Linked DNA regions of Homo sapiens: region 2 is linked to region 1. Evidence: fine-mapped expression QTL. Tissue or cell type: fibroblasts. Region 1 holds a variant in brackets; the other region holds the start of a gene. All regions are shown on one strand. Distances are from middle to middle.

What was found. PIP is the estimated chance that this variant, and not a neighbour inherited with it, causes the effect.
Region 2: it holds the start of CACHD1, and the variant in region 1 is fine-mapped to the expression of CACHD1 in fibroblasts (GTEx, PIP 0.99). The same link has a PIP of 0.9 or more in lung.

What each region holds. Positions count from the first base shown.
Region 1 is chr1:64,629,522-64,634,670 of GRCh38, reverse strand. It overlaps CACHD1 (cache domain containing 1), which reads right to left. Exons shown (of 27, transcript NM_020925.4): 6 at 1,928-2,072; 7 at 411-627. Among named protein-coding and RNA genes, the nearest start is that of MIR4794, 52 kb to the right of the region's middle. The variant C/T (reference allele first, on the strand shown) is at 2,045.
Region 2 is chr1:64,467,371-64,472,519 of GRCh38, reverse strand. It overlaps CACHD1 (cache domain containing 1), which reads right to left and starts at 2,391. Exons shown (of 27, transcript NM_020925.4): 1 at 1,578-2,391. The coding sequence starts at 1,775. LOC107984966 (a long non-coding RNA gene) reads left to right here and starts at 2,495. Exons shown (of 2, transcript XR_001738100.2): 1 at 2,495-3,334; 2 at 4,150-4,247. RefSeq lists an enhancer at 1-262 and a silencer at 2,062-2,181.

The DNA of each region.
Region 1 (5,149 bases):
ACTCATGCTTGTAATTCCAGTACTTCGGGAGGCAAAGGCAGGTGGATTGCTTGAGTTCAAGAGTTTGAGATCAGACAGGTCTCAGCCAGTGAAACCCTTTCTTTACCAAAAATATAAAAATTAGCTGGGCGTGGTGGCATAAGCCTGTGGTCCCAACTACTTGGGAGGCTGAAGTAGAAAGATTGCTGGAGCCCAGGAAGTCAAGGCTGGAGTGAGCCATGATCACACCACTGCATTCCAGCTTGGACAGAGCAAGACTCTGTCTCAAGGTAAATAAATAAATAAATAAATACATACATAAATAAATAAATAAAATCTCTCTAAACATCATTGTGTGATCAATTTACAATATATTCCTATTGCCATCTTTATCTACTATGCCTCTAAGTCCTCTGAGAGAACGCACTCACTTGCTTGGAACTTTGTGTTATTGTTTGTACTTCGAATCAGCTGAAATGCCTTTTGGAATCCCACTGCGTGCTGGGTAGGACTGTCTGAAGACTTCACGCTGCTAACAAAGGTGGACATTTTCCTTTTTGTCTCACTGGTGGCTGGAGACAAGAAGGTCTTATAGCACTGGTCTAGTGAGCAAGTCCGGACGGTATCTGCCACAGTTAACACAGAAATCTGCAGGAAAGAAAAAAAAAAAAAACCACCAAACTTGTTATCCTACCGTCTAAAGATTTATTTATTTATGTAACAGAAGAGGCCAAGGAGTAAGAAGGCCTACAGAACAGATTCTGAGAGTTTCAAAATAAATCCCTGGAGCCATCCATCTATCAAATTTGAAAAGGATCCATAAGGATTGGTAAAGTGGGGAAACCCCTAGAGTTTGGTTTTTGTTCCAACATGAAGTGGTAGTATTATGTTCATACATAACATTAAACACACACACAAACTATTTTATGCAGAGAAAAGTCATAGCAAGAATGAACTATCCTGTTTTTCAACCTGGAGGTGAGGGGTGAGGGTAAGAGAGTGAGGTGTGTGTGTTTTAAGCCACTAGGTTAGTGAGCAAAACCTCTGGAGTTGGCAAAGTCAAAATGATGAAGCAGAAAATGTCCACAGGCAATAGATTATCATTAGCTGTACCCACACCTCTCTCTGAGGTGTCCCAGAGATTAGTCAGCCACTAGCGGCTTTCCCTTCTTCCTGACTTCCCAACAATCTTGCAATAAAGTTCAGCCATCCATCAGCATCCAAATCTCCCACCCCTCTCCTCCTCAGCGTAACCTCCAGTGTGAAAGTCATGGCTAATTAGAAACCTTACCATGAGCCATAAAGAAGTATAAGACTAAGCTTGGTGGTAGTTACGAAAGGGATTTTTGGATTTGTGGCTGCTTCCTCAAATATTAGAATAATACTCTTTTCCCAAAGTCTTTTCTTTTCCCAAAGTCCTTTTAAAGATGGATTTAAAAAAATATACAGATGGTCCCTGACATACAATGGTTTGACTTTATGATGGTGAGAAAGCGATAGGCAGGCAGTGAAGCTGTACTTTCAATTTTGGATCTTTTCCCAGGCTCCTGATACTTTCTCATGGTGCTGGACAATGGCAGCGAGCCGCAGCTCCCAGTCAGCCATGCAATCATAAAGGAGAACCGCTGATATAGTATTCTGCAGTGTACTGTATTCAATAAATTCTACGAGATAGCCAACACTTTATTATGTTATAAAATAGGCTTTGTGTTAGATGATTTTCCATAACTGAGGGCTAACCTAGGTGTTCCGACTGTTTAAGGTAGGCTAGCCCAAGCTGTGATGTAGCTCAGGTGTATTAAATGCATTTTCAACTTATGATGGATTTATCAGGATGTAACCCCATTGTAAGTCAAGGAGGATCTGTATATCACAAAACAATAAAGTACTTTAAAAAAGGCATTCAAGGAGAACCTGATGCCATAGGGGTCACAAGGGTCATGGTCACCTTGTCATGTTCATCGATGGCGCTGAGGATGACCTGAGCAGCGTCCTTGGCAATCTGAAGCTGAGTGTCTGTGACTGAAGCCCCGTGGTCCAGAATCACTACTATGTGCTTTGACTG[C/T]GGCCGGACTGTAGAGACGTAGATGGGTCTGGAGGGAGAAGAAGCTCTCTGGGGTCAGTCTTGGTTTAGGTAAAGGGCCTCAACTTAACACAGCTGTGAACACTACAGTGCATGGGCATGTTGGTCTCTGTGTTCTCCCAGGGATGGCACAAGGATGGAGAAATCCACATGGAAGGAGAAACCATATTGGTGCATTGAAAATAATACTTAAGACAACAAGGTGTGTCTGTAGAACAGGGATGGGTAATTTATGCCTTTAAAGATCAAAGCAGACAAGAGAAGTTTTTCAGGAGCAAACCCTTTCAGAGGTTGGCTTTTTCAGCATCACTAACATCCTGCTTTTCTCTCTTTTTTTTTTTTTTTTTTTTTTCAGAAAAAAGCAGGATGTTAGTGTTCTTTAACCCAATGCTTTCTGCACAGCTTAAAACTTCTAGTAGTTAAAATCCTCATATAAAATATGCACAACCTCTGCTTGGTATTGCCCAGTGTACCTGTTTTGCTAAAGGATGTGGATGTAGTGGTCCCTTGGGCTGAGAGACCAGCCAAGGAGAAAAAGGTCCCATCACCAGGGTTGGATTCTCCTCTGCAGACTTGCAGAGTGGGGCTTGGTTAGAAGTGAGGCAGCCTATAACCCGTGAGCATGCTGAGCAGCTTTGAATGGCAGGTTTGGTTTCTCTCTTCTCATACAAAGGCTCCTGCTAAGAGGCCCCTTTCCTTTCTGGACTGAAACAATTCACATAGGTCAGCCACCAAAAGGCCCCTTATCTGAGCATTTAAAACTGTGCCATCAAAATTTGTCCAAGTCTGTGATAGCCACTCTTCTTGCCAGGTTTTTGTTTGCCAACATTGAAAAAAAGGGGGTTGGGGGCAGCCACAAAGGAGAAATGCCTCCCATCAAAGCAGCCTTTTGCTAATGTGCAGTGCAGGAAGGTTTGTGAGAAGAGGTTTAATGAGGTCTCTATTCACAGTTTTAAAGCTGGAACAAATTAGAAGGAGTTTAAGAAAGCAAATCAGCCTCAAGAGAATTCTCTCCTTTACTGACATCCTTAAAACACTAGATTTTCCTGTGAAATGTTAGATGCCAGCTGAATCACAAAAGCCTGGGCACAAATTAAGAAACGCAGGCAAAGTACCAAAAAAACTCAAAATCTGGCCAAATTTACACTAGTTGTTCTCAAGCCCAAAGTCCTGCAGTAATTACTAAAGTACCACTATATTTTCATGAGTCGATACCATTGAGCCACTAGGGAAATGCAATAAAAAGAATCCAGGAGAGGTGGCTACAGAAATGAAACAGAGTACAGAAAAGAAGGAAAATTTGATCATCTCAACACTGACAAGTAGGTCAAATATTTAACTTTTTAGATTCTCCAAGCTAGATGGGTGGATTTTCTTTAAAATGACACACTTCCTTTGTTAAAATTCAATTCACATAAATGAAACTTGGGATATGTGTTGGCATTGTCACATTAAGTTGTTAAACGCTGCTTTAGTGGGATATATAAATAGTGATGTTAAATGTACAAACTGGGGGGCAGTCCTCATAGAATGACTGGTATCTACCACTTCCTTTCTTGTGTTGCTATGTCCTGAAATCCATTCCATACTTCCAAAGAATGTAGAGAACTTGGAAAGGCATCATAGGAAAGCAGTTAGGACAAGAAATGTGAATCGCAGTCTATCAGAGAGAAATGTGGATCATTTAGCCAAGGGAAAAGAGGTTCAAGGGCTAATTAGTGCAGATTTAGGGTGGAGATACATGAAAACTTTCCGAATTGCCTTGTGTAGGTGAATGCTGATTTTGACAAGGTTTCACTTTCCTTTTTAAACTTTTCTTCACAGGTGCTTCGTTAAAATCAGCATGCCATCTAGCCCATCTCTTCTTAGAAGCAAATGAGAATTAGATGGTTCATGGTGGCCTTTGTTCTCGTGAGAAGCCATGATCATGGCTTCTGGTCCAGTCTCCAAGACACCCAAGTCTTCACCAGAATGTGTGGGGAGGGAAAGGAAGAAACCACACACACAATAAAAATATCTTAGGACGACTGGGCACGGTGGCTCATGCCTGTAATCCCAGCACTTTGGGAGGCCTGAGGTCAGGAGTTCGAGACTAGCCTGGCCAACATGGCAAAACTTCGTCTCTACTAAAAATACAAAAATTAGCCAGGCATGGTGGTGGGTGCCTGTAATCCCAGGTACTCGGCAGGCTGAGGCAGGAGAATCGCTTGAACCCGGGAGGCAGAGTTTGCAGAGCTGAGATCGTGCCATTGCACTCCAGCCTGGGCAACAAGAGCAAAACTCCATCTCAGGAAAAAAAAAAAAAAAATCTTAGGAAAAGCACAGATGAAGTATTTTCCTTGGGGAAAAATTCTAGATAAAATTTAAAGTGAAGATGAAGGGAAGCTAAAGTAATTGTGTAGACTCCAGAAAATGGTGTGAAAAGTGGGTGCCCTGCACTAGAGCTCCAGATGTTTTGGCATCAAACATCTAACACTGCAAACAGGAAACTGTCAGGATTAAATAGGAAAGTATATTTGCTTCGGGGGGGTTCTATAATTAATGAGTCTTGTCATACAAAGTATCTCACCATTATTGCCCTTCTGGCTACATGGTAGAATCTCAAGTCATGTCTGTGAGAGAAAAGCAGGATGTTAGTAATTTTTAATCCAATGCTTTCTGCTCACCTCAAAACTTCTAATAGTTAAAATCTGCATGTAAATTTCATGCAGTATGGCCAAGCATGTCATCATAGAAAGGGAAGTTGAGTATAACAAACTACTCTGAGATATGTTATAAAGTTATGTTCAAGGGCTGCACTATAGATAAGGTACCATCATTTACATTTCAACAAAGAATTCTGAAACTCAAAACACTCTAGGTGCTTCACACAATTTGACTTCACGAGTAAGTACCTTTTTATATTTGGCATATTAGATAGCTATAGGAAAGCTCTGGGTTTTGTAATTTGCCCTTGCCTGGAATTTCACATCCACATATACTAAATGGTGAATTCATTTCAGAACAAGTACAAATTTCTGAATCCACAGCTTAAAGGCATAGCCATGAGTAGAAATGAGAAGTTTTATATTTCATGTAGATCACTCT
Region 2 (5,149 bases), 160 kb after region 1:
ATGCAAATCAAGAAAACCCAACTCCATTGCACTTCAGGGCTGGGTGTCTGCAAATAAATGCAAAATTACCTTTCAAAATCCATCCACTCCTCAGTCCTCATGTCACCCTTTAAAAAATTCCGGTGGTCTTTCCCCACAGTAGAGAAGGTCTGTGGAACTTTCCTCAAGAAAATTGTAACCTCTTGGGAGGAGATTGGTGTGGGGAAGTGGAAAGAAGAGGAAGGAAGAAGGAAAAAGAAAAGAAAGAGGAGGAGAAGAACGAGAAGGAGGAGGAGGAGGAAGAAGAAGGAAGAAAGAAGAGAAGGAGAAGACGAGGAGGACGACGCGACGAAGAAGAAAGAAGTAAGAAACCTAAATCCCAAAAGTGACTTAAACACCTCTCCCGGTGGGAGGTGGAAGGAGTGGTCACAGTAGGATGGAAATCAGAAACCTATTCCAAGAACGCATTCTTGGAAACTTCAATCTTTCGAAGACCACATTCATCCCCATGATTGTTAGAATGTGTAAGAGAATGGTGTTATTTTATCTAAGAATGTTATAGCAAAGGTTTCAAGCTGGGAATGTCATCTCAACCTCTCCTAATCTAGTGGGCCTTTATGGCCAAGTGGATTAAAATAACAGCGGGGCAGAATCTCCAGGTGGTTGGTGTTCAGCAATTTTTACTACTGTTGGTCGTGAGTAACATCATCAGGATTCCTTACTAGCTGCGGGCAGTTTTTCTGTCAGCCCTCCTTCCTCTCCCGAGGAGGACGGACATGATAAACAATCTGGAGAAATGGGAACCTTATTCACTTTGCTCCCTTTTTCTTCGACCCAAAAAGGCACACACGAAACAAAAATCATACAGCAGACAGCACGCAAACTACAGCAGGATATGCGGAAAGCAACAAAAAGAGTCCCCCAGCAGGATTAGAGTCGGGAGTCTACCCAGAATCTACCAGGCCAGCCCCTCCCCCCATGCTCCCGGGAGGGGAAAGGAGCGCGGAGCCCACTCGGAGGGCCGCTCTCCGCCGGGACCTAGGTGTCCCCGGGGCAGCTGCGTACTCTGCGGCGCCTTCCCTCCCGGCGCCCATTGGTGCGCCTCGGTAGGGAGGACGCGAGGACGCGAGGACGCGGTCAAGGGGGTGGGGTGGGGACTTCGGAAAATCGTCCGAGCCAGACGGGGCTGGCTGCTCTGGGATGGGGACACAAAGGGGGAGTTTGCAGGCGTGGCAGGGTGAAAACAAGCCTACATGGGAAATGTGTGCAAATTAGAGAAGACGTGCGAGGAAACTGGAGAATCCTTGACGAGATGAAGGCGCTGGTACTCAGAAGAGGGGGGCTGTGCAGGGTCAAGTGGGTTCCGTGCAGAGGGCAGGGGATTCTCCAGAGAAGGGCAGGGGTAGACGAATGCATGGAAGAAGAGTTGGTGTATTGTCAGGGGGTCTGTGCAGAGGACAGAGGGGTCCGACGGGAAGCCGGGCTCTATGTATGCAAGGAGCCGATGCACACAGTCCAGGGGACTTGTACCGGGAGTGGGATGGGAGTTTGAGCAAAGGAGAAAGGCGGGATGTCTGGCCAGCTCGGGGGCCACTTACCTGCATGGTGACGACCCCCAGCTCCTCGGCCGCCAGCCTCCGCATCTGGCTCGCCAGCACTTGCGCCTCGTCCAGGATGGAGAAGTCGGCTTCGGCCCCGGCGCCCAGGAGCCAGCACGCGACCAGGCAGAGCAGCCAGAGGGGCGGCCGCCGCGCCCGGGCCACGGCCGTCTCCTCTTCCTCCGGCTGGCGGGCCATGCTGCCTCCCCCCACTCCCCGCCGACGGGCTCCGGGCGCGGGGAAGCGGGCCGCGGGAGGTGCCCCCCGCAAAAGCGCGGCGCACCCCGCAAAAGTTTCTTCCTCTGTTGCAGGCTCTGCTCCGCGCCGCGGTGGCGAAGGCTCCCAAACTTAGGGGGCGCCCGGCTACAGCGCGGGAGCGCGGGCGGCCACCATCGCGGGGCTCCGCGGCGGTGGGGGTAGGAGGCGGCCGCCCGAGCGGTCCCCGGAGCCCGGCGCCCACACGGGCCCCGCGGCGCAGAGGGCGTCTCCGAGAGCAGGGGCGCCCGCAGGCCGGGGTGCGCGGGCCCCGGGGCTGACAGTCGGAATCGGAGTCGGAGTCGGAGCCCGAGCCGAGCCGCGCGGCTCTCGCTTCCTGCGAGTCCCAGCGCAGCGAGCAGGCGGCGGCGAGGACTGACGGCGGCCCCCGGGGAAGAGGAGCGGCGGCCGGGCTGCGAGACTGGGGCAGCCACCCGAGCGAGGAGGGAAAGGGGAGGCTTCACAAACCCACACAACTGAAAGAAAGAAAGCAAGCGGTGGGGAAAGGGAGGCGTCTGGTGCCACCACGCTGCGCTCCGGCTCTGTGCACTTCCCGGCTGGGCCGCCGCGGCGGCTGCGGTGATTTATGGAACCAGCAAGAGAGGCGGGGAAATTCCCCCGGTTGCCCCTCCTCTCTCTCCCTGGCTCCCGCCTCAGAACCTGCCCCCCGGGACGCCGGGGGCCGGGGGACCAGCCTCTCTCTCTGCTCGGGGACCGGCCCAGCCCGGGCAGGGGAGCCCACGGACCTTCCCGTGGCTGGAGACGGAGACCCCCGCCAGCGCTCCCCGCCTCCGTCCGCGCCAGGGAGCCCACCCGGCCCAGGTTCCAGCCATCGAAAAGTCCTTTAAGTTCTAGGACGCTGGCTGTCTGCCTGGCAGCGGTTGGGGAAGAAGGGGACTGCCATGTGTAGGTCCACTCCCTCTCCTTGATGTTATTCATCACAATGGCTAGCTAGCGTTCCACCCACAGATTTCTGTTGCAACCAGCCACCGTGTGCCCGGCACTGGGCTCGGGGGTGTGCACATTATCCTTTAATCTCCGCGACATGCCATAGGAGGTACGTATCTTTATCCCAATTTTTTAGGTAACAAAGACTGAGGCTTAGAGAGGTGGAATAAATTGCCAGAGGTCACCCAGGGGATAAGAAACAAATCCAGAGTTTAAGCACAAGTCTTACTCCAAGGCTATTGCTCCTAAATACGATACAGTTCTCTCTGTCTCTCTTTGGAAATGAACCATCTGATCCCATCAAAAGCAAGAAAAAAGAAAAAGAACGACTGAACCGGAGTCCACCGCGCACACACCTGTTCTCCCAAGCATGGAGAGGCAAGGTTAACCTTCCTGTTTGTCCCTGACTACTGGCTCAGGCTCGCTGAGAAATCACCTGTTGGAAGCACCTGGAACAAGTCAACCTGCTGTGTGTGGAGAACAGCCACTCTCCCTTCCAAGCCCTGTGTGGTTGCTGCTTGCAGGTTCCTGGAGAACAGAGCCAACACTGGAAGGTTAAAGGACTAGTCCAGGGTTACCTAGCAGAGGTGGTAGCAGGATTAGAACCTGGATTTAGGACTCTTTTCATTTTACAGCAAAACCTTCTGTTTTACATCTTTGACTATATTGTATTAAAAAGTCATCTTCTCTTGTAAGCTCTCCCTGGCCCATTTTTACCTCATTGAGATCACTTCTCCATTCTCAACTCCCCTGCTAATTTTTGTATTTTTAGTAGAGACAGGGTTTCGCCATGTTGGCCAGGCTGGTTTCAAACTCCTGACCTCAGGTGATCCACCTGCCTCGGCCTCCCAAAGTGCTGAGATTACAGGCATGAGCCACTGCGCCTAGCCTGTGATGTTTGTTTTACATACTAAGGCAAGCATGTTGAGTGTGGGGACCAATCCCTTCACCTCCACATCATCCACACAAGCACATAGTAGTACTGGAAAAATGATTCTTGAGTTAATAATGAGGTAAAAACCTACCTGTATGTCTTCTATTCCTGGAGTTGAGCTGACATTTGTTAGAAAGATGATCCTTTAACTTCCGTTTTTTAAATTGTTGTACCTTTGACATGACACTCCGCAAGAGAAAGCATATTAGTCCATGTGATTAGTGGAAGAGTAAAGAACAAAAATAATAATGACATATAGCATTATTTTTTTATTTGATTCTTCAAGGTTACCATCACCAAGGTGTCACACATCTCTAAACTCCTTCTGAAATGCCTTCACAATAGGCATTTATTGCCCATCTTTTATATGTTGGTATTTCTTGAGGTCCTATTTCTTGGGATGCTAATCCAATGTCACCTTTTTTTCACTCTAAGGTTCTTCTTTTTGAGGACTCTCGACCACATCTATGCCTTCAATTATTACCAAACACGAGTTTATCATACTTCTAAATAAAGCTCAACCTGGATCTCCATTTTTTCTAGCAAGTTCCTGACTTCTCTAGTAGATATACCTGAATGAAAACTCATTACTGCTTTCCCCCATGTTCCACCTAAATCCATGTCTGGCTGCAAATCTAGGTGGATGTCACCCACTCTGCAAGCTAGGTACGCACTCTCCATCCACCCCAGCTCCCAACATATCTCCCGTGTCCATCCCCCGCTGTCCATCTGCATCCTATGGCCTGACTTCAGTTCCTCATTGCAGCTTGCCTGTATTATGACCAGTCTCCTCATGGGTCTCTGTGCAGTCTCTCTGTTCCCCCTCATTCTGTTCTTCACATGGAAGTCAAAATCAACTTTCTAAAAGTCAAATCTCAACTTGTCATTCACTAATCTAAACATTTCTGATGCCCCATCACAGATAAGTAAACTTAACAAACAAGGCCCTTTGTGCTCTGACCCTGTTTGCTCTTCTGGCCTTTTTGTAGCCACTGTGCCCCTCAGTTGCCTCACCACTCCCAGAAAACACCTATATGGCAGCCTCAAAATTCTTCCCCTTCTCTCCACTTGCTAGGTCCCCTATTCAGCTGAGGTGTCATTTCTGTGACACCTACCCCCACAGAGTTTACGGCTCCTCTTTGGTGCTCCAAAGCTCTTGGTTCTTCTCTCAGCACTTAATGTCCCCTCAGCGCTTAACAAGCAACATTGTGATTTTCCACTTGAAAGCTTTGATTTCTCCACCTTGTTTCTCAAAGTGTGATCCACCAAACACACTAGCCTCAGGACACTTAATAAACTGCAAATCCTGTGCTCTATTCCAGGTCTACTAAAGCAGAATCTTTGGAGGTGGGGGGTGGGTCCTGGAATATGCATTTTATAGACCCCCCTTCCCCGCCCTGACATTAGTCTTATGAACTAATGCTAGACTGCAAGC